4 linked regions of the Homo sapiens genome follow. The protein of the gene in region 4 interacts with the protein of the main gene of each other region in a pairwise test. Each region holds a gene or a part of one and is shown on either strand. Other genes may lie near its edges.

Region 1 (7,029 bases), on a different chromosome or scaffold from region 4:
TGTTCACTGTGTTGTCCAGGGTAGTCTCGAACTCCTAGGCTTAAGCAATCTTCTTGCCTCAGCTTCCCCAAGGAGATGGGACTACAGGTGTGTGTTACCACACCAGGCTCATTTTAAAATTTTTTTGTAGAGACGGGGTCTCACCGTGTTGCCCAGGCTGATCTCAAACTTCTCGCCTAAAGTAATCCTTCCACCTCAACCTCCCAGAGCACTAGGATTACAGATGTGAGCCACTGCAACTGGCCTTATGTGTGTTTTCCTGATTTTGCAGGAATATATGGGAATTTCATACTAGGAGGTAATGACCTCTAGGTAGGTGGATGTGGGGATTATGGTCAGCTCGGGGTTCTCTTGCCTTCATTTTCTTACAGGACATTATCTTTCTGGGGACCCAGTTTGCCTTCATGAAGAAAAGACACCAGCAGGAAGAATAGTGGCTGACTGCCTAACAGATTGTTATCAGGTAAAAAGCAGCTGTATTCTTATACATAGTGACATACTTGCATCCACCAGGTAGACACATTTCCCTCTAGGCAGAGTTGTCTCCAGACTTCTTTTTTTTTTTTTTTTTTTGAGAGGGAGTCTCGCTGTGTTGCCAGGCTGGAGTGCAGTGCTATGCTCTCGGCTCACTGCAAGCTCCGGTCTCCAGGCTTCTTAAAGCAAATAAAGTGTCACTCAAGGACTGAATCCCCATTTGAATTTCCCCAAGGGTTGGGGCCACCCATATAGGGAGGTGCTAACTTGGAAATCATCCCAGGCCGGGCATGGTGGCTTACACCCATAATCCCAGCACTTTAGGAGGCTGAGGCAGGCAGATTGCTTGAGTACAGGAGTTCAAGATCAGCCTGAGCAACATAGTGAGACCCCGTCTCTACAAAAAATTTAAAAATTAGCTGGGCAAAGTGGTACATGACTGGACTCCCAGCTACTTTGGAGGCTGAAGTGGGAGGATCACTTCAGCCCTGGAGGTTGAGGCTGCAGTGAGCTGTGATTGCACCACTGCACTCTAGCCTGGGCAACACAGCAAGACTCCGTCTCAAAAAAATTAAAAAAAAAAGTGTCCTTTAAGTTGTTTATCAGCATTGATCAGATGTCTGGAATGTGCTGAGCAATGCGCTCAAATAGATGGAAATAAGATGAGATCTTGGGCGGGCACAGTGGCTCATGCCTGTAATCCCAGCACTTTGGGAGGCTGAAGGGGGCGGATCATGAGGTCAGGAGTTCGAGACCAACCTAGCCAGTATGCTGAAACCCTATCTCTACTAAAAATACAAAAAATTAGCCGGGCATGGTGGCGTGTGCCTGTAATTTCAGCTACTCAGGAGGCTGAAGCAGGAGAGTTGCTTGAACCTGGGAGGTGGAGGTTGCAGTGAGCCAAGATTGCACCAGTGCACTCCAGCCTGGGCAACAGAGTAAGAGTCCATTTCAAAAAAAAAAGAGATCTCCTAGTCTGGTTGTGCTGAGATAAATTCATATTCAAGAAGTGCCATTAATGCACTATGAGTGGAGGAGATGACAGTGAGTATGTTTAGGGTGCGAGGAGTTTCTAGGACCCTTAAAACCTGGGGCTGGTCACTGCAGCCCTTGGAATCCTGCATAGGCATTGGGTCCCCCTTCCTCATCCTCCAGCGAACGCTGATGGGCTTGTTACTTGGCTCCAACCAGCATGTGTGTGATGCTTTAGGATTCAGTGACCTTTGACGATGTGGCTGTGGACTTCACCCAGGAGGAGTGGACTTTACTGGACTCAACTCAGAGAAGCCTCTACAGTGACGTGATGCTGGAGAACTACAAGAACCTGGCCACAGTAGGTAAGACTGGCCTCATCCCTTGCAGCCTTCTATGGAACTGATATGTTTTGTACTTACTGTTTTGCAGCATTGGCAATGTCAACTCTGAATGCAAAGAGAAATAACAGAGACATAGTCCCTGTCCTAAATAGATTTTAATCTACTGTGACCATTCTGAAAATGTGGTCCAAGATTAATAGCAACACCATCTGCCTGTTAGAAATGTACATTTTCCTTCTCCACCCAGAAACCTGGAGTTGAAGCCCAATAATCTGTGTTTGAACAAGTTCTCTGGATGACTCTGATGCACAATAATGTTTTAAAAAACACTGGGGTAGTTGTTTCCCCAGAAGAATGAAGATCTCTGTTATACTTCCTTATTCCTTATTTGTTGTTGTTCTTGTTTTGAGACAGTTTCACTCTGTCACGCAGGCTGGAGTGCACTGGCATGATCTCAGCTCACTGCAATCTCTGCCTCCTGGGTTCAAGCGATTCTTGGGCCTCAGCCTCCCGAATAGCTGGGATTACTGGCATGCGCCACCACACCCAGCTATTTTTTTTTTTTTTTTGTATTTTTAGAAGAGATGGGGTTTCACCATGTTGGCCAGGCTGGTCTCGAACTCCTGACCTCAAGTGATCCACCTGCCTCAGCCTCCCAAAGTGCTGGGATTACAGGCATGAGCCACCACACTCGGCCATTATTTTGTGTTTGAATAAAAGTCTCAGTGCTTTTTAAATGTGTACATAAGCCTGAATTTCGGTTTAGGGGACAGAAGTAACCAGACTGTTTGGGGCACAGTCAGAGTTGTTATTTGCATTTTTCGCCCTTTTGAAATAGCTTCACCACTTTCATTAGATCTGTAGTTCCTGAATCACAGAAAGGTTTGTAATCTTTTTTATGAGCCTCTTCCATTAATGTATTTCTCTGTGCTCAGGAGGTCAGATCATCAAACCCAGTCTAATCTCTTGGTTGGAACAAGAAGAGTCAAGGACAGTTCAGGGAGGAGTTCTCCAAGGTGAGTGTTCATGAAGAACAACTCTGGTTGATGAGAAGTTCAGTATGTTTGAAAGCATAATTAGGAAACTTTTTAACATGTACTTTCTCCCTGCACTCTAAACCCCAAGGTTTAGAGAAAGTTAGGAAATATTTAACTTCCCACACGCTTTTATTTACAGAGCAGTCCCCCCTTGTCTGTGATTTCACTTTTCACGGTTTCAGTTATCTGCATTCAACCATGGTCCAAAAATATTAAATGGGAAACTCGGCCAGGCATGGTGGCCCACACCTGTAATCCCCACACATTGGGAGGCCTAGGTGGGTGAATCATTGAGCCCAGGAGTTCAAGACCAGCCTGGGCAACATACCGAGAACCTTGTTTCTACAAAAAATACAAAAATTAGCCGAGGGTGGTGGGACGCACCTGCTGTCCCAGTAACTCAGGAGACTGAGCTGTGAGGATGGATTGAGACTAGGAGGTCAAGGCTGTGGTGAGATGTGATTGCACCACTGTACTCCAGCCTGGGTGATAGAGTGAGACCCTGGCCACTGACCCCCACCCCACAAAAAAAAAAAAAAAAAAAAGAAAAAAAGAAAAATTTCCAGAAATAAACAAAACATAAGTTTTAAATTTCTCACCATTCTCAGTAGTATGATGAACCCTTATGTCATCCTGCCTGGGGTGTGAATCATCCTTTTGTCCAATGTATCTACACTGTGTACACCACCTGTGAGTCACGTAGCGGTCATCTCAGTTACCAGATCGAAGAATCATAGTATGTACAGGGTTCAGAACTAGCCATGATTCAGGCATCCACCTGGGGTCTTAGAACATTTCTTTAAGTTAATTGTGGCTTTTGTTTGTTTGTTTTGTTTTTTGAGATGGAGTCTTGCTCTGTCGCCCAGGCTGGAGTGCAATGGTGCAATCTCAGCTCACTGCAAGCTCCACCTCCCGGGTTTATGCCGTTCTCCTGCCTCAGCCTCCCAAGTAGCTGGGACTACAGGTGCCTGCCACCATGCCTGGCTAATTTTTTTATATCTTTAGTAGAGACGGGGTTTCACCGTGTTAGCCAGGATAATCTCAATATCCTGACCTCGTGATCTGCCTGCCTCGGCCTCCCAAAGTGCTGGGATTAAAGGCATGAGCCACCGTGCCCGGCCAAGTTAATTGTTTAGATATACGCTCTTTTTTCAGAAATTTCCTACTTTCATTCCCTGATTCTCTCTATTCACTATCAGTTTTAATTTTCATAGCATCAATTTGTAATAAACGATCGAAAAGTTTTACCCCATGTCCTTGTCTTGGCCAATTTTTCCCCCTTTGGATCATTTACATCAAAACCAAATTTTTGATATAGCCCAAATCCCCAAATGTCTTTCTGCTTTTTCTTGCCATGTTTAATTTGAAACAAATAGAAATAAGCCATATTGTTTTGAACTCTTTGCATTTCTTTCTCCAAATCCTTTCATTTGTTCTTGTTGTGGTTCACTCTGTTTGTTGCCAAGGCTGGAGTGCAGTGGTGTGATCTGAGCTCCTTACAACCTCTGCCTCCTGGATTCAAGAGATTCTCCAGCCTGAGCCCCGTGAGTAGCTGGGATTGCAGGTGCTCACCACCACACCCAGCTAGCTTTTGAATTTTTAGTAGAGGTGGGGTTTTGCCATGTTGGCCAGGCTGGTCTCAAACTCCTGACCTCAAGTGATCCACCTGCCTTAGCCTCCCAAAGTGCTGGGATTACAGGCATGAGCCACTGTGCCTAGCTTGAGTCCTTTTATTTGTTTGTCTGTTTTATTTCAGGATGGGAAATGCGACTTGAAACCCAGTGGTCTATACTTCAGCAGGACTTTTTGAGGGGTCAGACATCCATTGGGATACAATTGGTAAGATTTGCATAGGATATTTTTTATTTTCCACCCTCAGAGAAAATCAGGAATTCTGTTATGGGAAGTCAGCAAAAATAAGAGATATTTGAGAGAAGTTGCATACACATGAGAGGGAGCAAAGAATTTAGGGATGCTCCAATTGTGAAACTTGTTTCTTTGGAGCTTTCACACATTCCCACAAGTGTAACTAGACGTTGAGTTTTGTTTTGGTGTTTTTTTGAAACGAGATACTGCTCTGTCACCCAGGCTGGAGTGCAGTGGTGCAATCATGGCTCAGTATAGTCTTGACCTCCTGGGCTCAGGCGATCCTCCCACCTCAGCCTCCCTTGGTAGCTGGGACTACAGGCATGCACCACCACACCCAGCTAATTCTTCAAAATTTTGTGGAGACAGGGTCTTACTGTGTTTCCCAGGCTAGTCTCAAACTCCTGTGCTCAAGTGATCCTCTGCCTCAGTTTACAAAAGTGCTGGGAGTACAGGCATGAGCCACCACATCTGGCTTAGACTATGAATTTTTTTTTTTTGGTCGAGACAAGGTCTTGCTGTGTCACCCAGGCTGGATTGCAGTGGCACAAACATGGCTCACTGAAGCCTTGACCCCTTGGCTCAAGTGATCCTCCCACCTCAGCCTCCTATGTGGTTGGGACTACAGGAACACACCACCATGCCCAGCTAATTTTTTGATATTTTTTATAGAGATGGAGTTTTGCCATGTTGCCCAGGCTGGTCTCTAATTCCTGGGTTCAAATGATCCACCCACCTTTGCCTCCCAAAATGCTGGGATTACAAATGTGAGCTACTGCACCCATCTAGACATTGAATTCTACAGAAATCTGTTATTATTATTATTATTATTATTTTGAGACGGAGTCTCGCTTTGTTGCCCAGGCTAGAGTGCAGTGGTGTGATCTTGGGTCACTGCAACCTCCGCCTCCCAGGTTCAAGCGATTCTTGTGTCTCAGCCTCCCAAGTAGCTGGGATTACAGGCATGTGCCACCAAGCCCAGCTAATTTTTGTATTTTTAGTAGAGACAGGGTTTCACCATGTTGGCCATGCTGGTCTTGAACTCCTGACCTCAGGTGATCTGCCCCCCATCGGACTCCCAAAGTGCTGGGATTACAGGCATGAGACACCATGCCTAGCCAAGATTAAAGTAGATGGCACAACATTCTAGAATAAGAGTTAAGTCATACCACTTAAAATAAATCTACAGGGAAGGACCTGAATGCATGTAATAAAAATGGCATCAATTATAATCACCATTATAATGTTTCTAGCTTCAGATGGGTATGTTCTGTTAATATGTTTGAGAAAAATCCTTAAATCATCATCATCCCTTCAACAGGAAGGAAAACACAATGGAAGGGAACTCTGTGACTGTGAGCAATGTGGAGAAGTCTTCAGTGAACACTCATGCCTTAAGACGCACGTGAGAACTCAAAGTACAGGGAACACTCATGACTGTAATCAGTATGGAAAAGATTTCCTTACCCTGTGTGAGAAAACCTCTACTGGTGAGAAACTTTCTGAGTTTAATCAGAGTGAAAAAATCTTCAGCCTGACACCAAATATTGTATACCAGAGAACTAGCACACAAGAAAAGTCATTTGAATGTAGTCACTGTGGAAAATCCTTCATTAATGAGTCATACCTTCAGGCACATATGAGAACTCACAATGGAGAAAAACTCTACGAATGGAGGAATTATGGGCCAGGTTTTATTGACTCTACAAGCCTTTCTGTGCTTATAGAAACCCTCAATGCAAAAAAGCCCTACAAATGTAAGGAATGTGGAAAAGGCTATAGATACCCAGCCTACCTCAGTATTCACATGCGAACCCACACTGGGGAGAAACCATATGAATGTAAGGAATGTGGGAAAGCCTTCAATTATTCCAACTCATTTCAGATACATGGAAGAACTCACACTGGAGAGAAACCCTATGTATGTAAGGAATGTGGGAAAGCCTTCACTCAGTACTCGGGCCTTAGTATGCATGTACGATCTCACAGTGGAGACAAGCCCTATGAATGTAAGGAATGTGGGAAATCCTTCCTTACATCCTCACGCCTTATTCAACATATAAGAACTCACACTGGAGAGAAGCCTTTTGTATGTGTTGAATGTGGGAAAGCCTTTGCAGTTTCCTCAAATCTTAGTGGACATTTGAGAACTCACACTGAAGAGAAGGCCTGTGAGTGTAAGATATGTGGGAAAGTATTTGGGTATCCCTCATGTCTTAATAATCACATGCGAACGCACAGTGCCCAGAAACCATACACCTGTAAGGAATGTGGGAAGGCTTTTAACTATTCCACCCACCTTAAAATTCACATGCGAATCCACACTGGAGAAAAAC
Region 2 (7,029 bases), on a different chromosome or scaffold from region 4:
TGCTGTTTGTAAGCTGATGACCCAAATTTGTATCTCCAGTTTAGGTTGCTCTTAAAAAACTGCCTACCTGACAGCTGCATTTGAATGCCTCTATCCAAAATGAGCTCATAATCTTCCTGTGAACCCGTAAACTGCCCCATCTCTCTTCTGGCAACTCTATTTTTCCAGTTGCTCAGACCAGAGACTCAGAAGTCTTTTTTTGTTTGTTTTTTGAGACCGAGTCTCACTCTGTCCCCTAGGCCGGAGTGCAGTGGTGTGGTCTCGGCTCACTGCAACCTCCGCCGTCCGGGTTCAAGCAATTCTCCTGCCTCAGCCTCCCGAGTGGCTGGGACTACAGGCATGTGCCACCACGCCCAGCTAATTTTTGTATTTTTATTAACGACAGGGTTTCACCATGTTGGCCAGGCTGGTCGCAAACTCCTGATCTCAGGCGATCCGCCCTCTTCGGCCTCCCAAAGTGCTGGGATTACAGCTGTGAGCCACCGCGCCTGGCTGGAAGTCATTCTTGACTTTTTTTTTCTACATTTCATATGCAAGCACAGCAAATCTTGTCAACATCTCTTTCAAAATGTATTTGGATCTAGCCACCTCTTACCATCTCCCTGGTTCAAGTCCCTGTTATTTTTGTTAATTTTTTATTTTTGAGACAGAGTCTCCCTCTGTTGCCTAGGCTGGAGTGCAGTGGCACAATCTTGGCTCACTGCACCCTCCATCTCCCAGGTTCAATCGATTCTTCTGCCTCAGCCTCCCGAGTAGCTGGGACTACAGGCACATGCCACCATGCCTGGCTAATTTTTGTATTTTCAGTAGAGATAGGGTTTCACCATATTGGTCAGGTTGGTCTTGAACTCTTGACCTCATGATCCGCCCATCTTGGCTTCCCAAAGTGCTGGGATTACAGGCATGAGCCACCGCAACTGGTCAAGTCCCTGTTATTTTTCATCTTGATTGTTAACGATAGTCTCCTAAGTGTTCTCCTTGTTTCCTTTTTGCACCAACTACCCCCCATCCTGCCCCCACCACAAAACCTCTGGTCTTTTCTTAACACAGAATTCAGAGTTAAAATGTAGGTCAGACCATGTCATTCCTGTGCCTAAAATCCTCCTTTGGCATTATCTCTTAGAGGAAAAACTAGAGCCTACAAAGCTCCACAATGACTTCACCCCTTCTGTTACCCCTCCGACCTCACCTCCTACAACTCTCCCTTTCTCTGCTTCAGTCTCACTGTCCTTGCTGTTCTCACACAAATCTGGCACCATCTGGCTTTAGGGCCTTGGCACTTGCCTTCTCTTCTATTTGAAGTGTTCTTTCCCATGTAGTATGTGACGTTTTTCCCCAACCCAGTCCTTACTGAAATGTCACTCCTGAGTTAGGATGTTCTTTGTCACCCTATTTTGAACTATACCTTCTTTCAACTCTCTGACCCTTCCCAGCTTTATTTTTCTTAGCATTTTTCACTATTTAACATACCATGTATTTTACTTATTTATATTAACTTAATTGTCTACTTTCTCCTCCCAGTATTAACTCCATGAGATCAAGGGTTTTTATTCATTCTGGTACCTCATAGAGTTAATACTTAGAGGAGAAAGTAGAGGGTCTTTATTCTTTCCCAGCACCTTGATGAGTCTTATATTTACTTGAGTTCTTATGTTGAGATCTTGATATCTTAGATTTACTTGAGCTCTTAATATGTGCCAGGCACTAAGTGTGTTTTATGTTCTTATAAGAACAAGTATTGTCATGATCTCTATTCTATAGATAATGAAATTACGATCTCAGCTTTAGTAATTGAACCATGTTGTCAGCTAGTGGTAGAGTTGAGATTCAGATTCTGGCAGTATAGTTTGAAGGACTCAACTCTTTATACGACAGTATAGCATACTAGAGCATAGTAACTTCACTATGACATAGCATAGCTTTACTATGCTATGAAGGTTTTTCAGTGGTGTTAGATCATTTAGGGTGAGTTCTGAAAAGAGGCAATTAGGTCAGTTAAGTGGTTGGGAAAAGAGCCAGATCACAAGGGATAAGACCTTGAAATCTGTTTGTGTCAGGAAAAGGTGTTTTATAGATATTAAAAGTTTATTCGGAAACATTTGCTGTATTACTTTATTGCCACATGACTATATTGCTGAGCATTTTAAGTACCGGTGGGAAACATTTAAGAGCAAGTTTTTGTTGCTGAAATGCACTTAAAGCATTCTACTATTTATTTCACCTATTTTAAATACTTAATTCAAATAGCCGGTAATCTTTTGTTTTTGCCACTGATTTGCTATAGTAAAGGTAAAAAAGTTCAGTCAGTACAATTTATGTAAATAGGGGACTTCTAAGCTGGAAGGAGATTCCATACGCCTCTTCCTCTGCATATTTTTATTGTCTATATTCTACTTTACTGGCAAGGAACAGTTTCTCTACCTTCAGAGTAGAGCTAACCAAAGCTAGTGTTTCTATAAGATCCAAGGAAAAAAATGAGCTATGAATGATACTAAACCTGGAACAATTATGAAAGGAAGATTAGTCAGGAGGAATATTAGACGATACTATAGAAAGAATTGCCAGTTTTAGGTGTTAAAAAGTTGTTTTTGTCTTTCGTGTTTAATATTATTATATATATATATATATAATTTTTTTTTTGAGACAGGGTCTCGCTCTGTTACCCAGGCTGGAGTGCAGTGTCATGATCTCAGCTCACTGCAATCTCCACCTCCTGGGTTCGAAGCGATTCTCCTGCGTCAGCCTCCCGAGTTCCTGAGACTACAGGTGCCCATCACCATGCCCAGATAATTTTTGTATTTCTGGTAGAGACAAGGTTTCACCATGTTGGCCAGGCTCATCTTGAACTCCTGACCTCAAGTGATCTGCCCGCCTCAGCCTCCCAAAGTGCTGGGATTACAGGTACAAACCACCATGCCTGGCCAAATATTGTATAAAATATTTGATGCTTATCCAGGTATAGATACTTAAAGACATGTAAAACTATTGGGAAGTAATGTGGAAACTTTTTACCATGTGGCAACTTTGTGAAAGCAGAATTATCACCCATGTTTTATTATATACATCTGATAAGAACTAGTCTTCTTTTCAGTATAGAGAAAATTTGATGTTAAAGTAGGTTGGCTTAGTAATTTATCTTGTATAGCTTCCTAGTGTTCATTTTGTGGTTTAGTGGTATTTATGACTCCCTAATCTATAAGCTCTTTCTAGTATTACTATATTGATGCTGAAAATAAATTATTCCCCAAAGTGTTGAAGATACCATGTCGCATTTAATATAGCCATAAGCTTTTTAAATAAGCTTTTTAAAAATGTTATTTTTTCCCTCAAATTAATAATGCATGTACACAGGTTAACAAGTCAAGTCATGTCAAGGCTTCTAAAGATATATATCTGACCCTTACCTGCCGTACCACATCCCCTTTCCAATTCTCCATTCCTTAAAGACAGTCATAAAGGCAGTCATTTTCAGCTCCTTAGCTATATGTTGCATCTAAACTCCTGTTTCTAGGTAATTTGCATGTGTAGGTATTTTTGCTTCTTCAGTTTTATTTTATTTTATTTTTTTTGAGACAGAGTTTCGCTGTTGTCACCCAGGCTGGAGTGCAATGGTGTGATCTCAGTTCACTGCAACCTCCTCCTCCCTGGTTCAAGTGATTTCTCCTTGCCTCAGCCTCCTGAGTAGCTGGAATTACAGGCGCCTGCCACCACGCACAGCTAATTTTTGTATTTTTAATAGAGATGGGGTTTTACCATGTTGGCCAGGCTGGTCTTGAACTCCTAACCTCAAGTGATCCACCCGCCTCAGCCTCCCAAAGTGCTGGGATTACAGGTGTGAGCCACCGCACCCGGCTGCTTTTTTGGTTTTAGTTATTTTATTGAATTTCTTCTATGGAAGATGTGGATTTAATCTTCTCTCACACCCCCATTCTTCCCTCACCTTCCCCCTTTTAATACAGTTATATCACAAATTTTGGTTAATCAATATTTTGTGTTTACATTATTGTGACTACCCAAATATTATTTATATGTGAGTCACCTAAGGTACTGTAGCTGTATTTCCTTTCTCAAATAATTTTTTAAATTATTTCTAAGTTTTTTCAATGGATAGAGATAGAAAATGAATATATTTAAGAAAACTTCTTATTGACATATTTATATATACAGAAAGTCCCCCAGAACATAAATGTATATTATGGTGATTTTTCACAAAGTAAATACATCCATGTAACTACCACATAGATCAAGAAACATATAACATTTAATTTTAAGAAAATATTAATTACCAAAGTTTTTCACCTGCTTAATTTTGTACATACATCACTAATTCATTCTAAAACTGAAGTGAATTGAACATATCCTCTTGACATATTTAAATATAGAATATATATATTTTTATTTCATTTTATTCATCTTTTGAGGCTCCTTTCCTGGAAACTCTAATGTAACCTGATTGTGTTAGAATTTTCTTCCTCTTTTATATTCTCTATTTTTGATTTCCAATTCCTCACCTTTCTTGGTTTATCTCCTTGATTTGGGAGTGTACCATAGCTCCTTTTCAAAACATAAATGCAATGATAATTTTCATTACTGAAAATATTTTTATTCTGTCCTATACTTGAATACTATATTTTCTGTGGATATAAGTTTCAGTTGGAAATTATATTCCCTCAAAATTTTGAAAGTTTTGTTACTACATCTTCTAGTTTTGTTACCTCTGAATATTCTGCCCTGTGTTTTCTGATATTTTGTAGATCTGTTTTTATATTTCCTTTCATGAAATTCTTGACCTTTTTTTCATATTCCTGGTGTTCTGAAATTTCACAACAATGTGATCTGGGGTAGGTCTTGATGCATTTATTTGGTAAACATATAGTTGGTCTTTTCAACCTAGAAACTCATGTATTTACGGTCTTGCTTTTTTTTTAAATAATTTCTTTAAGAACTTTATTTTCTCCATTTTCTTTGTATTATTTTCATGGCCTTTCAGACATTAAGAAAATTAAAGAAACAGTCCAGTCCAAGAAAAGCAACGTCCAAATAAGGGGAATTTTAAAGTGACTTGCCTAAGGCCACACAACTAAAAGGTGGCAGATCCTACGTTTAGACATATCTACTTGATTGCAAATCTGTTCTTTTTCCCCTATTGTCTATTGAGTAGAAATTGGTTATCCTAGTGAAATATACACAAATAATGTTTATCTATATCAAATACTGTATTATGTTACTAATATACATACTATATCTATTTAAAAGAAAAAATTTAGCAGGAGATAATATAGCATATAGGATCTAAAATAATGTTGTTGTTTGAAGCTTTATTAGGATCTTTAATATAATCAGACCAAATTGATCACTTTACACTATAAAAGAAGAAAAATAATTTGGATCTCACAGACTGATGTTTACAGAAAGTCTAAGAAATATTGCATTTTATATTTGGTACTATATGGAGATTGATATTCTTATATTTTCTTCTGCTTCAACTCATAGTCATCTAACCAAATTTCTGTTTCCTTCTCTTGTACTAGCTTGTCACTATGAATTGTTTTTTAAAAATTAATTAATTAATCAATTAATAGAGAAAGGATCTCGCTCTTTTGTCCAGGCTGGTCTTGAACTCCTAGCCTCAAGGGATCCTTCCACCTTGACTATGAATTCTTAAAAATACAGCATATATAGCTGAAGTGCTAGTTGCCACATTATTATTTTTTAAACTGGGTTGCACCCGTGTAAATATAGGGAAAAAGAAAGAGTAACAATGTTAGAAGCTCAGAGGCGAGAGAAAGAGAAAGTGGCATCAAACAAAACAGATTTTGATTTTCTATCCATAAAAATTAAGTCCTATATTTATACAATGGTTCAGTAGCTTTTAACAATCTTTAATTTTCACATTCCTCAAGAACTACAACATCTTGAACTTTCTCTTTGGTTGCATGGTTTGGAACAAATCCTGAAACAACTCCCTCTAATGTTTTTATGACTGGAAAGATCTTTGTCCTTTTTTGGGCGTGTTGTTTTGTTTTATTTTTGAGATAGGATCTCACTCTATCACCCAGGCTAGAGTATAGTGGCTCAATTGCGGCTCACTGCAGCCTCTACCTCCCAGGCTCAAGTGATCCTTCTCCCTCAGCCTCCCGAGTAGCTGGGACTACAGTTGCATGCCACTGTGCTTGGCTGATTTTTTAAAATTTTTTGTAAAGATGAGGTCTTGCTGTGTTGCTCAGGCTGATCTCTAACTCCTGGGCTCAAGCAATCTTCCCACCTCCGCCTCCCAAAGTGCTGGGATTATAGGCATGAGCTAGTGCACCCAGCCTCTTTTTTAAAAAAATTAGAAATAAAGTAATCAAAAGCCTTTTTCTAAAGCATCATAGTTTAAAAATTTTTAAGAAATAGACTATTTCAAATTGCTATTGGAGCACAGTGTACACAGGCCTCTGGGAAGGTGAATTTTCCTGTGAAGTGCCTTTGAGAAGGTGCATTTTACTGCCACTGATTTTGGAAAGCAGGATATTTGAGTCTGACCTCTATAAAGGTTGTTTTTTTCCTGGATTTTTATCCATGTAATATCATTCCCTGAACATGCACCACACTTTTATATTTGAATAAAAGGTACTTTAAGGAGCCCTTTAAAATATATTAATATGTCCTTTTTATTAATCTTAATGAATTTACAAGCAAAAAACAAAATATCCTTTTTTTAATATCTGTATACATTATTGATATTAAAGGCAAAACATGGAAATAGAATCAGGTTTCCTTTCAGTGTTATACATCATGGCAATGCGTATTATGTAAACGATGTTTAAAGTGAGCTATAAAGGTTATACTGTGTTTGTCTTGGTTTATGGATCCTATGCCTGTATTTCTTTTGAACATTTAGAGAATATTTATGTGAAAGATCCTTTACATTATTAGGTTATTTCTAGTTTCTTAGGAGTAAATTCCTATGTTTGCTGTGGCCACGGACTGGTGACCACTCTGTTAAATGTGGGCAAGTGTATTTAGTGAAATTCGTCAGTAGCCTAG
Region 3 (6,891 bases), on a different chromosome or scaffold from region 4:
TGGCTTTTTCAGTAAACATAACTATTTTAAGGTTAATCCATTATCTTGTTGCATGAATCAATTGTTTGCTCATTTGTATTGCTGCGTAGTATTTCAGTATTTCATTGTATACCACAATTTTTCTTCTTTGTCAACTTAATTGTTATGGATGTTTGGGTAACTTTCAGTTTTTGGCTATTACAAATAAACCTCTGAAGATTTGTGTGCAAATTATGGCTGAATGATATTCCATTCTATAAATACACCTCAGTTTCTTTATCCATTTACTTATTGAAGGACGGTTGCTTTCAAGTTTTGGCAGTTATGAATAAACCTACTACATATTTGTATAGTTTTTCTGTGGAGATGTTTTCAACTCATTTGGATATGTGCCAAGGAGTGCAATTTTCTCTGTCATATAGCATGTTTAGTCTTGTAAGAAACTGCCAAGCTGTCTTCCAAAGCGGCTGCACCATTTATTTTATTTATATATATTTTTTGAGACAGAGTCTCCACTCTGTCACCCAGGCTGGAGTGCAGTGGTATGATCTTGGTTCACTGCAACCTCCACCTATTTTAGTAGACATGGGTTTTTACCATGTTGGCCAGGCTGGTCTCAAACTCCTGACCTCAAGTGATCACCCTCCTCGGCCTCCCAAAGTGCTGGGATAACGGGGGTGAGCCACTGCAACGGGCTGTGGCTGTACCATTTTTGCATCCAACTAACAATGATTGAACATTCCTCTTGCATCTCATCCTAATCAGCATTTGGCATTTTCAGTATTTTGGATTTTAAAATGCCATTCAAATAGGTGTGTAGTGGTATGCCATTGTTGCTTTTATTTGCAATTCCCTAATAACACACAATAAGTATCTTTTTTAAAGGCAGGGTTGTTTTGTTTTGTTTTGAAATGGAGTCTTGCTCTGTTGCCCAGGCTGGAGTACAGTGGCATGATTTCGGCTCACTGCAACCTCCACCTCCCGGGTTCAAGCGATTCTCCCACCTTAGCCTTCCAAGCAGCTGGGACTACAGGCACCCGCCACCATGCCCAGCTAATTTTTGTATTTTTAGCAGAAATGGGGTTTCGCCATGTTGGCCAGGCTGGTCTCGAACTCCTGACCTCAGGTGATCTGTCTGCCTCGGCCTCCCAAGGTGCTGGGATTACAGGTGTGAGTCACTGCGCCCAGCCTGGCTGGGGTTTTTTTATGTGAGTTTCACACACCTCTGAGTAAGTGGCTTGCAGACAGAGAAGTTAACAACTTTGGCTGTTAGCTTGAACCTGTGATTTATGAATACCAAAAAGACAAATACAGAATCTAAGGAAACACATAACAGTCCTGTATACACACAGCAGCTGGCAGCCCTATTCCCGGTGTGTCCCATATACCTACCATTGACCTGAAACCCAGTTTGTACGTGCTCATTGAACATTTTGTAGAGCAGTAAATACACATCATCACACAGATTGCCTACTCATTTTTATTTTTATTTTTCGAGACGGAGTCTTGCACTGTCACCCAGGCTGGAGTGCAGTGGCGCGATCTCTGCTCACTGCAACTTCCACCTCCTGGGTTCAAGCGATTCTCCTGCCTCAGCCTCCCAAGTAGCTTGGATTACAGGCACCCGCCACCATGCCCAGATAATTTTTGTATTTTTAGTAGAGACAGGGTTTCACTATGTTGGCCAGGCTGGTCTTGAGCTCCTGACCTCGTGATCCGCCCACCTCGGCCTCCCAAATTGCTGGGATTGCAGGCGTGAGCCACCGCACCCGGCCTTCATTTTTATTTTTTGACAAGTGTTTCCATTTGTTATCTCTATCCCTCCAAACAGTTAATAAGCGATGTTTTCAAGTATGAAATAAGAAATACATATAGGAGACAGAAGCATAATGTGTCCAGGTTCCAGCACAGCCAGTCTCAACTTCATTCTTTGACTTCTCAGACTCTTGCTCAAACTCTACTGTAACCTTGCTTTTTCCCCCCTTCACATGTCACAGAGAGATTTCTGTAGGACTATTTCTGCCACTAGTTTTGAAATAACATAATCACTGTTAGTCCAAACTGCACCATCCTGTAAGCCCCCTGCCATCTCACAGACCTTGGTCAGAGTGAAGCATTCCACGGAGTGAGGGCCTTGAGAAACATCCTGCCCAACTGCCTGACTTTCTTATCACATCGTTCTGGGAAAAGATCCAAGGAAGGTCACTATCACATCCTGCCGGATAAAAGGCCAAACTGCCTCAGGAACATCTTACGCACATCCTTTGGCCGGGTGCTGTGGCTCACGCCTGTAATCCCAGCAATTTGGGAGGCCGAGGCGGGCGGATCACCTGAGGTCAGGAATTCCAGACTGGCCTGACCAACATGGTGAAACCCTGTCCCTACTAAAAATACAAAAAAATTAGCCGGGCGTGGTGGCACGCGCCTGTAAAGCCAACTACTCGGGAGGCGGAGTTCAAGAATCGCTTGAACTCCGGGAGGCGGAGGTTGCAGTGGGCCGAGATCACGCCATTGCACTCAAGGCTGGGCGACAAGAGCGAGACTCCTCCAAAAACAAAAAAAAACCCACCATCCTCCTGGGCAGCAAGTCATACCCTCCCGCCGCGCCCCCTGCCCCCCACCCCTGACCCCTCTCATCCAGGCCTATAATTGCCCCAGCCTGTAAGCAGTGAGGGGTTCTGGCACTAAGCTAGTTCTCCCCATCACAGGTCTCGTGCTGGACATAAAACCTGCATTGCTGTAGAGCTGCCAACTCTGCCTTTCTTTAACCCTCGCCTTCCCTTCAAAACCTAACAGTTATTATTAATAGATTTCTGTAATTTTCATTTCACAAGTATTTTCACAGATAATTTCAACTCCCTGTAAAATGATAACTCACTTCTCAGGAAGGAGATAAGATCATGAAAGTTCACAGTTTTTATTGGGGATAATACGTTCCCTGTGTACATATACTCCAACTATGGAATGGCACAAAATGTCCTGTCAGGAAATGGCATGTATCAGTCACTCTCATTTTCAGACAGGATTGAGACTTTTAAAATAAATGTAAAATATTTCAGACATGAAGTAATAAGTATTATTAGAATAAAAGCATTGCACTCTTGGTAGGAACACAATCACTGACTCTACAGACAGTAATGATGTTTTCTTCTGGATCCAGAGGCACAGCGTCACCCTTTCAATCTACGTCGGTATCTCCTGTCTTCTTTTGTGCAAATTCCCAGCCATGTAGTCTTTCTTTGTTCTCTTGGACCAACCATATTGAAGCTTAATAAATAGAAGTCAAAGTTTAACTGTATGTGTATTTGAAAAGCAACATATGGCTGAGAGGCATGAGTAGAGACAGAGTGCCTTTGTGGTATAGTGTGTCCCTTTGGCGGTGTAGCCGTTGAGAACTTGCTGTGCTTCACAATCCGATATCATAGGTCCCTCACATTTCTGTGAGTATCCTAGACCTTACTTCAAGAAAATCTGGTTATGTCGCCTTTAAGAGCAACCCAAGCCCCGTCCTGTCCGTGGAGTCCGGCACTCTGTTTACCAGCTCCCCTGACGGTGCCACTGAGCCTCTATCCGCCATATAAGGACTGACCAACGCTCTAAGGCAAGTCCAGAAGCGGTGTCGAAACTTCATAACCCAGAAGACACTGCGGTTCTCGGCAGCGCGACTGACCCAATGAATGTGCAGGAAGGAACCTTTGCGTGCGTGCGTGCGTGCGTGCGTCCGTCCTCGTGCTCGCGCATCGTAGGAGGGCGGGACTTCCGGCGTCCTCTTGCCGTGGTTGATTTGATTTTCTCTGGTGTTTTCACTAGTTCCGGCCTTTGGCGCTCTATGACGTCACCGAAGTGACGGAGCGGAAAAGCGCGAGAAGCGGCTTGGTTCCTTGTACGCAGAGGCGGTAGTGACACAGGCACAACTGACAGTGGCAGAAGCTCAGCTGACAAGGACTGGGGACGGCGGTGTCCTTGTCTTGCCTTTGTCGCCCCCGCCCCTCTCTTCCCTGGCTGGACTTGCGGAGTCCCCGCCGAAGAACCCGAGGTGGGTGCCCCGTCCCAGGCCCCCCCCCACCTCCGCCCGACCCCTCCTTCCAGTGCTGAAGCCCATAGAAGGGGCCCTGCAGGTCAGGCCCCTTGTCTCGAAGAGAGGGGCGTTCCTGTGTGGGGTCCCCGTATCAGCTGGTTTGATGCAGCCTCAGAGCTCCCTTCGGGGATCTCAGGTTCAGAGCATGGAGGTGCTGCCAAGTGGGCCGCGTCGGGGAGCCCGGAGTGTGGGTTGTTTCTGCGGGAAAGAGAGGGTTTTGTGAATTTTCTCTTGGAATGGCAGCCTGAGCAGCCGGTATAACCATGGAAGGTTGTCAAGGGAAGACCAGTGGGAGGGGCAGGTCCAGAGTTAGAACGAGCAGGATGGGGAATTGACACAGAGAGACCCAGAAGAGGCCACTGCAGTGGATCCCAGAGGCTGCACCAGAGCCGTGGTATAAGAGGGACAATGTGATGGGATTCTGGATAGACCTGGAAGATAGAGCCAACAGGTTTTCCTGCCGTATCAGATATGTCTGTGAGCAAAAATAGGGAGTGAAGGGTCATTTTTTTTTTTTTGCCCGAACATCTGAAAGAATGAAGTTGGGGAAGTCAGCAGCATGAGAAGTAGGTTTCATGGAGAAGATCATGGGTTGGAGTTTGGCCAGTGTGATTCTCAGGCGTCTCAAGTTGAAAATGTCACATGGGTAGGGGGACAGAAAGGTGTGGAGTCTACAGAGGAGAACTGGTGTAGATTCTTCAAAAGAATAGAGGGTGGCCGGGCGTGGTGGCTCACGCCGGTAATCCCAGCACTTTGGGAGGCCAAGGCGAGCGGATCACAAGGTCAGGCGTTCAAGACCAGCCTGACCAACATGGTGAAACCCCGTCTTTAGTAAAAATACAAAAATTAGCCGGGGGTGGTGACGCGCGCCTGTAATCCCAGCTATTCGGGAGGCTGAGGCAGGAGAATTGCCTGAACCCAGGAGGTGGAGATTGCAGTGAGCCAAGATCGCGCCATTGCACTCCAGCCTGGGCGACAGAGCGAGATTCCGTGTCAAAAAAAGGTGCGGAGCGCGGGTCTCTTCCGCGGAAACTGACATTGCGTTTCCGTTGTCGGCCTCCCGCTGCAGGAGCCATATATTGAAGACCATGTCTGGAAGCTTCTACTTTGTAATTGTTGGTCACCATGATAATCCAGTTTTTGAAATGGAGTTTTTGCCAGCTGGGAAGGCAGAATCCAAAGACGACCATCGTCATCTGAACCAGTTCATAGCTCATGCTGCTCTCGACCTCGTAGATGAGAACATGTGGCTGTCGAACAACATGTACTTGAAAACTGTGGACAAGTTCAACGAGTGGTTTGTGTCAGCATTTGTCACCGCGGGGCATATGAGGTTTATTATGCTTCATGACATAAGACAAGAAGATGGAATAAAGAACTTCTTTACTGATGTTTATGATTTATATATAAAATTTTCAATGAATCCATTTTATGAACCCAATTCTCCTATTCGATCAAGTGCATTTGACAGAAAAGTTCAGTTTCTTGGGAAGAAACACCTTTTAAGCTGAATGGAGAAAATTCCAAAATAAATTATATCACCACAATGGTGTATACTCAGGAATGTGTACATTGTAAATTACTTGATTAAATAGCCTGGAAATCTTTTGTGTATTCTCAGCTTATCTAAACTTAATGAAATTTCTTTTATATTTAAAAATAGTACATTCTGTCTCATGTCACATATCAGTAGATCAATTAGTATTTCCTTGTGAACAATGTTATTTATAAAGAACTCATTATCAATAATAATTAATTTCTTTCTTTTTTTTTTTTTTTTGAGACGGAGTTTTGCTCTTGTTGCCCAGGCTGGAGTGCAGTGGCACAGTCTCGTCTCACTGCACCCTCCGCCTCCCAGGTTCAAGCAATTCTGCCTCAGCCTCCCGAGTAGCTGGGATTACAGGCTCCCACCACCATGCCTGCCTAATTTTTTTTGTATTTTTAGTAGAGACGGAGTTTCGCCATGTTGGTCAGGCTGGTCTTGAACTCCTGACCTCGTGATCTGCCTGCCTCGGCCTCCCAAAGTGCTGGGATTACAGGCATGAGCCACCACTCCCGGCCATGAAATATTTTTACTTAAAAATTGGGAATAAGCTTTCTTTTTCTTTCTTTCTTTCTTTTTTTTTTTTCTTTTGAGATGGAGTCTGGCTCCTGTTGTGCAGGGGCTGGAGTGCAGTGGCACGATCTTGGCTCACTGCAACCTCCACCTCCCGGGTTCAAGCAATTCTCCTTCTTCAGCCTCCCAAGTAGCTAGGATTACAGGCATGCACCACCACGCCTGGCTAATTTTTGTATTTTTAGTAAAGACGGGATTTCACCATATTGGTCAGGCTGGTCTTGAACTCCTGACCTCGTGATCCGCTCGCCTCGGCCTCCCAAAGTGCTGGGATTACAGGTGTGAGCCACTGCGCCTGGCCATGAAATATTTTTTACTTAAAAATTGGGAATAAGCTTTTTTGTGTGTGTGTGTATGTTTTTGTTTTTTTGTTTTTGAGATGGAGTCTTGCTCCTGTCATGCAGGCTGGAGTGCAGTGGCACGATCTTGGCTCACTGCAGCCTCTGCCTCCCGGGTTCAAGCAGTTCTCCTTCCGCCTCCAGAGTAGCTGGGATTACAGGCATACGCCTGGCTAATTTTTGTATTTTTAGTAGAGACAGGGTTTCGCCATTTTGGCCAGGCTGGTCTTGAACTCCTGACCTCAGGTTATCTGCCTGCCTCGGCCTCCCGGAGTGCTGGGATTACAGGTGTGAGCCACTGCGCCTGGCTGGGAATAAGCTTTCGACTTGCCCAATTCAGATAAATTGTTTTTTTTTTTTTTTTTTTTGACGTGGAGTTT
Region 4 (7,029 bases):
TTTTATATGGTGTCTCATTTCAATGAACCTTCCAAGAAAAAAACTATGTGTAAAGATGATACTATTACCCAGTCAGCAATGCTGGCTCTCAACTGGAAAATACGTGAGAATTTTGTGTATAGGTTAAATACAGGTGCCTGGCACCCACCACGGACTTAAAAGATAGAATCTCCAGGGATGAGGCCTGGACATCTACATTATTTTTAAAACCTCCACAGGTATTTTTGATATACAGTCCTGTCTAAGAATCACTAGAACCAACTAGCAGAAACAAACAGGGTGGTATCTCTTACGGGAGGGCATTTGGAAATGGGAAGGAAGGGTGAGGTTTGGTTTTTTATAATAATTTGAAGGTAAAAATGACATGTGGTACTCTGAACCACGAAAGGTGTAAGTCCTGCAATGCCTGATCAAATCAAGCCTACAAAATGAAAAACTGGCCCAACCAATATGCCACTGGCATCCCTGCTGAAAAATTTACAACTATATTCTGACTGTTCTGTTTTCTAGAAACAGAAAATAAAGACTGAGTTAAATTACAGTTCATGAGAAGCAGTATAAAAAAACTTGATTCCTTTTTCATTAAGATTAATAATTATACTATTCAGAATCTTGGGTATAAAGAACATCTAATACTTAAAAACTTACATTTAAATGTTTCTGCCTCTAAAACCTGGCAGCTGGCTTGATGCTCAAATTGATCATCTTCACAGAGAAAGTTATGGCAAAAAGAACAACTGAATATTCTGCCTCCTATTGGATTAAAAAAACACAAATGTAATTAAGATAAACTTTAATTTAAAAAAACTCATATCTATAATACTGCTTAGAAGAGATGGTAAGTTACTTTGGAGATACACCAAAATTGTTCAGCCATTTTTATTCTGATAAAAGCTAAAATGAAAACTGTTGAAGTCCTTGAAACTGAACTGAAACTGAGAAAAGGGGGCTCTTACTCTCCACTAGCTACCCATATAACACTCACAATGCTCAAAGAGACTACCTGCTCCACCACAACTTCCCTCCATGTTTGGGTAAACAATACTAGCATTGACAATAACAGACAGTATAGATCCCTTCTCTAACTACACTGATAATCAAAACAGTACCAGTAGTTAGGATTGACAGTATCCTGAAAAAAATCTCAAAAACAGCATTCAAAATGTTTCAAAGTCAACATTCACCTATAACAAAGCTCATTACTTGTGTCTAATGACTCACCATGGTCCCACACGCCTCGTTCACATTCAACACACTCAGCATCGGTAAGAGGGCAGGCACAAGCATGTGTACTGAGACATTTCCTACCATGGCAAACCCAAGCTTCACAGAAGTCACATATTGCACCCTGTAACCAAGGAACAAGAATACATAATCATTATCACCTGACCACCTGCAACCATTCTTTAACCACGGCAACCATCAAAACTGTATACATTTAGCAATTTATCAACCCTCAATGATAGTAGGCCGCTTCATTTAAACATTTTACTACTCACTCTAAGCCAAAAATAAAAAGGGTTCTCTGAAAAACAACTTCTTAACAGCTATCCACAATATACAAAACTCAGTTACATATCAAAAGAAAAAAAGGTAAACTGTACACTTATCCTAATATTATTTAATTAAGCCAAAGAGATGGAAGTATTTTCCTCAAAATGAATTTAATTCAAATAAAGTTTGAAGGAACCAACAGCTTAAGCTTTCTTGTCTATAATAATTCCTGTAACTACACTGAATTTTTAAATACTACCATTTCTGATTTTTAAAATACCTTCTTATCTATATATTTGCATAGCTTTTCTAGAATTACTGAGAAATACGAAACTTCTGCCAGCTTCTTTTTTTCTCTTATGACAACTTATGTTTTAATAATAATTACATTTCTTTGTGGAAAAAATTTGAAGTAAAATATATGGAACTAAAATACAGGGTAAGATTCTCCAATTCTATATCAAGAAAAGACAATAACAATATGTTTCAATAAAACATTGACACCTACCAAATATTAAAAGCTAGAAAGAATCTTAAGAGAGTAGGATCAGACAATCTTTCCTTTATAAAGGAAAAGCATGGGGCCCAAGACTAAATCCAAGTCCCGAGTTGGATTACAGGTGAGGTGAGATTTAAAGCCAGGATTTCAGAATCTCAATTCAGTATTCTATTATTCAAGGCTCTGAAACAAATGTAGTAAACAACAAATAGGAAGAATGTTTTTTGACTTGCAAAAATGGGTTATCAGTATAGCTAGCAAATCATCAACTATATCTCTTGGATCAGCCAGGGTTCTTGCAAAAAAGAGATGGTACTCTCAAACTAGGTAATCTAGAAGAGTTTTAAAGAGATAATTTGCAGAGGACAGGGAAGTTCTTAGGACAAACAGGAGAGGACTACCTGGCCATATAGGGAGAACTGTGGTCCTTAGAGAAAGGATAAAACCAAACCAGGATAACCTGGTACGGAGTGAGATGAAGGAATAAACACCCAGATCTTATTCTCCTGCTATTCTCAGGGGGAATCTGGGGAGGCAAATAGAAGATATCCAGAAAATCACTTTTCTAGAATTTACAACTAAAGATATATGACTCTACTTAAATGTTTTCTTTATGTAAGAAGAAATTATTCACATTCAAAAAACAGTGATTTTAAAAAATGAATTTGGCTGAACTTAAGCTACCAAGGAAGACTGAAAGTGTTTTTGAATAAAGATAACTTGACAATCCTATACTTAAAATAAAGAGCAATTCACAAGATGATAATTCTCGCTCCTTGCTTCTATAATATATGCACATATGAAATATATCATAGGTCTCCCTCATAATAGAAGTTTACATGTTCTTGGAAATTTACCATAAATAAAATATTCCATTTGACATAAATATAGTATCATTTTCCTCATAGATTAAAATTTGAACAAAATTTTATTTGAACATAAAATCATACTGCAATACAGTAAAACTGGTTAACTCATATTTAGAAGGAAAACATGTTTCAGGAAAAAGAGCAAAATACATCACATAATCCAGTTGGTTTTATTATTCAAAAAGCTGAATTTACTTTAAAAAATCCTATATGTAATGAAGAGGTATGTTAAATATATACACTTTTTTGAAATGTAAAGTTTTAAAGAACACTATTATCCTAGGTTCGTTTGGAACTAAGTTGCTTATTTAACCAAAGGCTTAAACGTTGGTTAAGCAGGGCTTTCGGTACACTAAATACTGTTTTGTGAAGTCTGGTTAAGAGATATTAGAAAGGTACCACTGAGTATATACCCAAAGGATTATAAATCATGCTGCTATAAAGACAAATGCACACGTATGTTTATTGTGGCACTATTCACAATAGCAAAGACTTGGAACCAACCCAAATGTCCAACAATGATAGACTGGATTAAGAAAATGTGGCACATATACACCATGGAATACTATACAGCCATAAAAAATGATGAGTTCATGTCCTTTGTAGAGACACGGATGAAGCTGGAATCCATCATTCTTAGCAAACTATCGCAAGGACAAAAAACCAAACACCGCATGTTCTCACTCATAGGTGGGAACTGAACAATGAGAACACATGGACACAGGAAGGGGAACATCACACACCACAAACCGGGGACTGTTGTGGGGTGGGGGGATGGGGGAGGGATAGCATTAGGAGATATACCTAATGCTAAATGACGAGTTAATGGGTGCACCACACCAACATGGCACATGTATACATATGTAACAAACCTGCATGTTGTGCACATGTACCCTAAAACTTAAAGTATAATAATAATAATAAAATTTAAAAAAAAAAAGGTACCACTGAGAAATGAAATTCTGTTTAGATCAGCATGAAAAGTTTCCATGCCTTGTATGTTCCCTAATAAGAAAGAAAGAAGCAGCTAGAAACAAGTGGGTACTAAGGGAAAATCATACAAAAAGCATGCCACTCATAATCCAGATAACTACAGATTGATTGAAACAAGGGACAAAGCAATGATATTTAGAAAAAAATAACCACTGATCAGAATGACATTTTCTTATCCTTGAAAACGTACTAGTCTAAGAGATAATAAGAAGCTTACCACCATTGCAAGGCCAGTACTGTATACACCAGCATGCTTTATGACACAGTCTGAAGACTTCATCATGCACTTTGTTTTCCCTAATGAAGAAAAACATTTGCACTGTTAGTCTTGCAAAGGAATACATACCAGTACTCACGAATTCCTCCTTTTATCCAGCCCAAGTTCCTGAGGAAATAATTTAAAAACTAATGAAATTGAATCAGTATTTACTGCTTACATAACTAGAAAGAGAAAATGGATATAACTGAGACTTCATTACTCGAATCAGACTTTTCAGATTATACATTTACTAATAAATCTGTAAAATGAACTATACAATATATATGCTAATTTGTACTAAATCAGAAATTGCAGGTTATGCTTTGTAATCTAATGATCATTTTAACAGTTTAAAAACTTATCAATCTTCAGATTATTCAAAACAATTTTTAAAGGAATGCTTTTTATAACAAATTTTACATTTTATAATTCACAATAAAAACTGTGGTTTGAAGTTATTTCTTTCCACAGAATAATACCTCAAACCAAACCAAATAATGATTATGTAACTTATCGAGTTAATGTAATTTTATCCAAACATAAAAATTTACAACGAAGCCCCCAGTTAAACATTTTCCCAACAAAATTTTGAAATAGTGCCCAAATAAGCACAATAAACAATACGGTGATACAGCTACAAATCACCACACAGCCACTAAACCTCTGATCTAGAAGCAAATTAAATTACCAACTCAAAACACTATCAGGAAATTTGCTTATCAGATATTATGTGAGAGTTAATGATGACATTAATCATCCATCTGAGACTCCACAAAATGGAACACAAAAGAAACAATTTTCCGTTATCTTGATTTCCTAAGGAACAAAGTTAGTAGGAAATGGGAAGAGAAACTGGAAATGAGAGGCAGCAGCTACCCAACTGTTCCATGTCCAACACTAAGAATCAGTAAATGAGAAATGTATCCATCTAACAACACTACAAAATTTAAGCCCAGAGACACTGAAAATAGGGGTAAGTCCTAGCAAGAACTTACCTATTAATCTTCCACAAACTCTGTTTCCTCACTCTACATTCATTACTTTTTGCAAAACAAGGCTATGAAAACTACCATATGAGTGTTCCATATAGGCCAGTTTTCTCTTTTTCATTAATTGTGGAATTGAAAAGATCTTCTTTGAAAGCTAGAACTACATTAGAAATATTCAGGGATATAGCCCTAAACACTACTAACTTTCTGGAATATTATTACATATAAACACACTTAAATGAGCATACCCCAAATTGTTCTACCTGAAATTATTATTATTATCTCATAAATAAAAGCAATACTTGTTCATCAAAAGTTGGGGGGGGATGTAAATCTAGAGTAATAAAGTTAATTGGGTTTCTTTGTTGCAAGTCTTCAGAACTTCTAACATATAAATATATAATAGAAATCTCCCAGATGAGAATGAAAGGAGGATGCATGCAGTATTTCTCAAATGTATATCGATATATATTTTTCAAGAAATATCCATTAATATTTCAGGAAGTCTGTGGAAGACTATTTGGGAAACACCCATCTTGCTAACATTTAGTTTTATTTTGTATAATCATTTTGGGGTACAAGTCTCCACCTATACTTAAGAACCGGGCACATGACTTAAGAACTCTATTTAAATCACCTGGGAATACATGTGAGGAAACTCATGAATCATATGGTAAGCATCAAACACAAAAACTACTGATCACAAAATAAGTACCAGGTAAATGTGGAATAAAATTATTCCCAATGGTCTAACACACTGCAGGTAATATCAGCAGGAATCAAAATGTAGATAAGTAAACAAACAGATACTGACAAGACTAAGGTAGTATAACTAAAAGTTCAGGATCACCAAATGTTATGTCTGAAATCTGATCTTTCACTGTTTAAAAACACTTATTGGTAACCTGTATCTAAATTGTACCTTAATTATTTTCCAGCATTACATCAAAGAGACAAAACCAAGGCTTGATAGTTTTTTGGTAGGCAAAATAACATGTTTTGTTATTTTGTTAATGGTAAGGCATAATATTATCAACAATTGTAAGCACTGTAACCAATAGCAACAAACCCACCCAAGTTCAAATTGTTGAACTACCAGTTGATAAAAAGCATATGTCCTTAATTATTACAAACTTACCACACTGTGCACAAATTGGTAACTTCTGTACAGAATTACAAAAGTAGCAAAATGCTCTATTCTTCTGCCGCCTTGTCATGTAAAATAAAATTTTAAATTATGGTCAATGTCAGATAAAAAGTCAGAGGGACAATTTTATTAAAGGTAGATAGAAAAAGAAATAAAATTTACCTCTGACACTTGTCACATTCCTGTAACATATAAAAATATCACATTAATTTTTCTGCTGACTGAAAACTGCAAATTTACTTGTATTACAAAGAATAACCTGCTTTTCAGGTTAAAATTTAAGTGACACTACACCAAAGCCCCAACTCCACCCATGTATACAAGCACCTACCCATGCTTAAAATAACAAAGGTATGCGAGAGTGATACTCCGGGTATATGATTCCCTGAAGAAGTGGCATTATCACAAAGGAGGCTAAATACATTGGTAGTTTCTTTTTCAATTGTTTGTAAGGAATAAAATACCACAGAATGAACACAAGAACTATCCTTTTGATAGTTAAGTACATTCTAAGCCTTATGAAACGTTAAGCACATATTATTCCAAATGAAGTGGGTGACCCTTAAAATAATGCATTTATCTAAGGCACCGTTCCAAAGAGAATACAAAATAATAAAGTTCACAGAAAATCCAGATTCCTAAACATGGTTTTAAAAGCTCTCCACAATCTGGCCCCTAATCACTTTCCAAACCTTCTTGGCCTATTCTTTTTAGACTCAAGTCACTAATGGTCAGCCATTCTCCAAATATGTCTTATATTCTCTCTTCTCCATGTCTTT

What was found.
Region 1: the proteins of ZNF330 (region 4) and ZNF426 interact in binary tests that used the Homo sapiens proteins (3 or more experiments, as listed by UniProt).
Region 2: the proteins of ZNF330 (region 4) and STX19 interact in binary tests that used the Homo sapiens proteins (3 or more experiments, as listed by UniProt).
Region 3: the proteins of ZNF330 (region 4) and ZNF547 interact in binary tests that used the Homo sapiens proteins (3 or more experiments, as listed by UniProt).

The regions. Positions count from the first base shown.
Region 1 is NC_000019.10:9,528,622-9,535,650, reverse strand, and holds part of ZNF426 (zinc finger protein 426), read left to right. Parts: intron 1-371; coding exon 372-463; intron 464-1,684; coding exon 1,685-1,811; intron 1,812-2,725; coding exon 2,726-2,806; intron 2,807-4,583; coding exon 4,584-4,666; intron 4,667-6,014; coding exon 6,015-7,029. UniProt on the Homo sapiens protein: May be involved in transcriptional regulation.
Region 2 is NC_000003.12:94,018,572-94,025,600, forward strand, and holds part of STX19 (syntaxin-19), read right to left. Parts: intron 1-7,029. UniProt on the Homo sapiens protein: Plays a role in endosomal trafficking of the epidermal growth factor receptor (EGFR).
Region 3 is NC_000019.10:57,359,689-57,366,579, forward strand, and holds the start of ZNF547 (zinc finger protein 547), read left to right. Parts: upstream 1-3,862; 5' UTR 3,863-4,015; intron 4,016-5,126; exon of another isoform or gene 5,127-5,145; coding exon of another isoform or gene 5,146-5,568; exon of another isoform or gene 5,569-5,717; intron 5,718-6,891. Other genes in the region: TRAPPC2B (trafficking protein particle complex subunit 2B), read left to right, coding at 5,146-5,568. UniProt on the Homo sapiens protein: May be involved in transcriptional regulation.
Region 4 is NC_000004.12:141,223,890-141,230,918, reverse strand, and holds part of ZNF330 (zinc finger protein 330), read right to left. Parts: intron 6,433-7,029; coding exon 6,413-6,432; intron 6,313-6,412; coding exon 6,242-6,312; intron 4,153-6,241; coding exon 4,073-4,152; intron 1,349-4,072; coding exon 1,222-1,348; intron 754-1,221; coding exon 649-753; intron 1-648.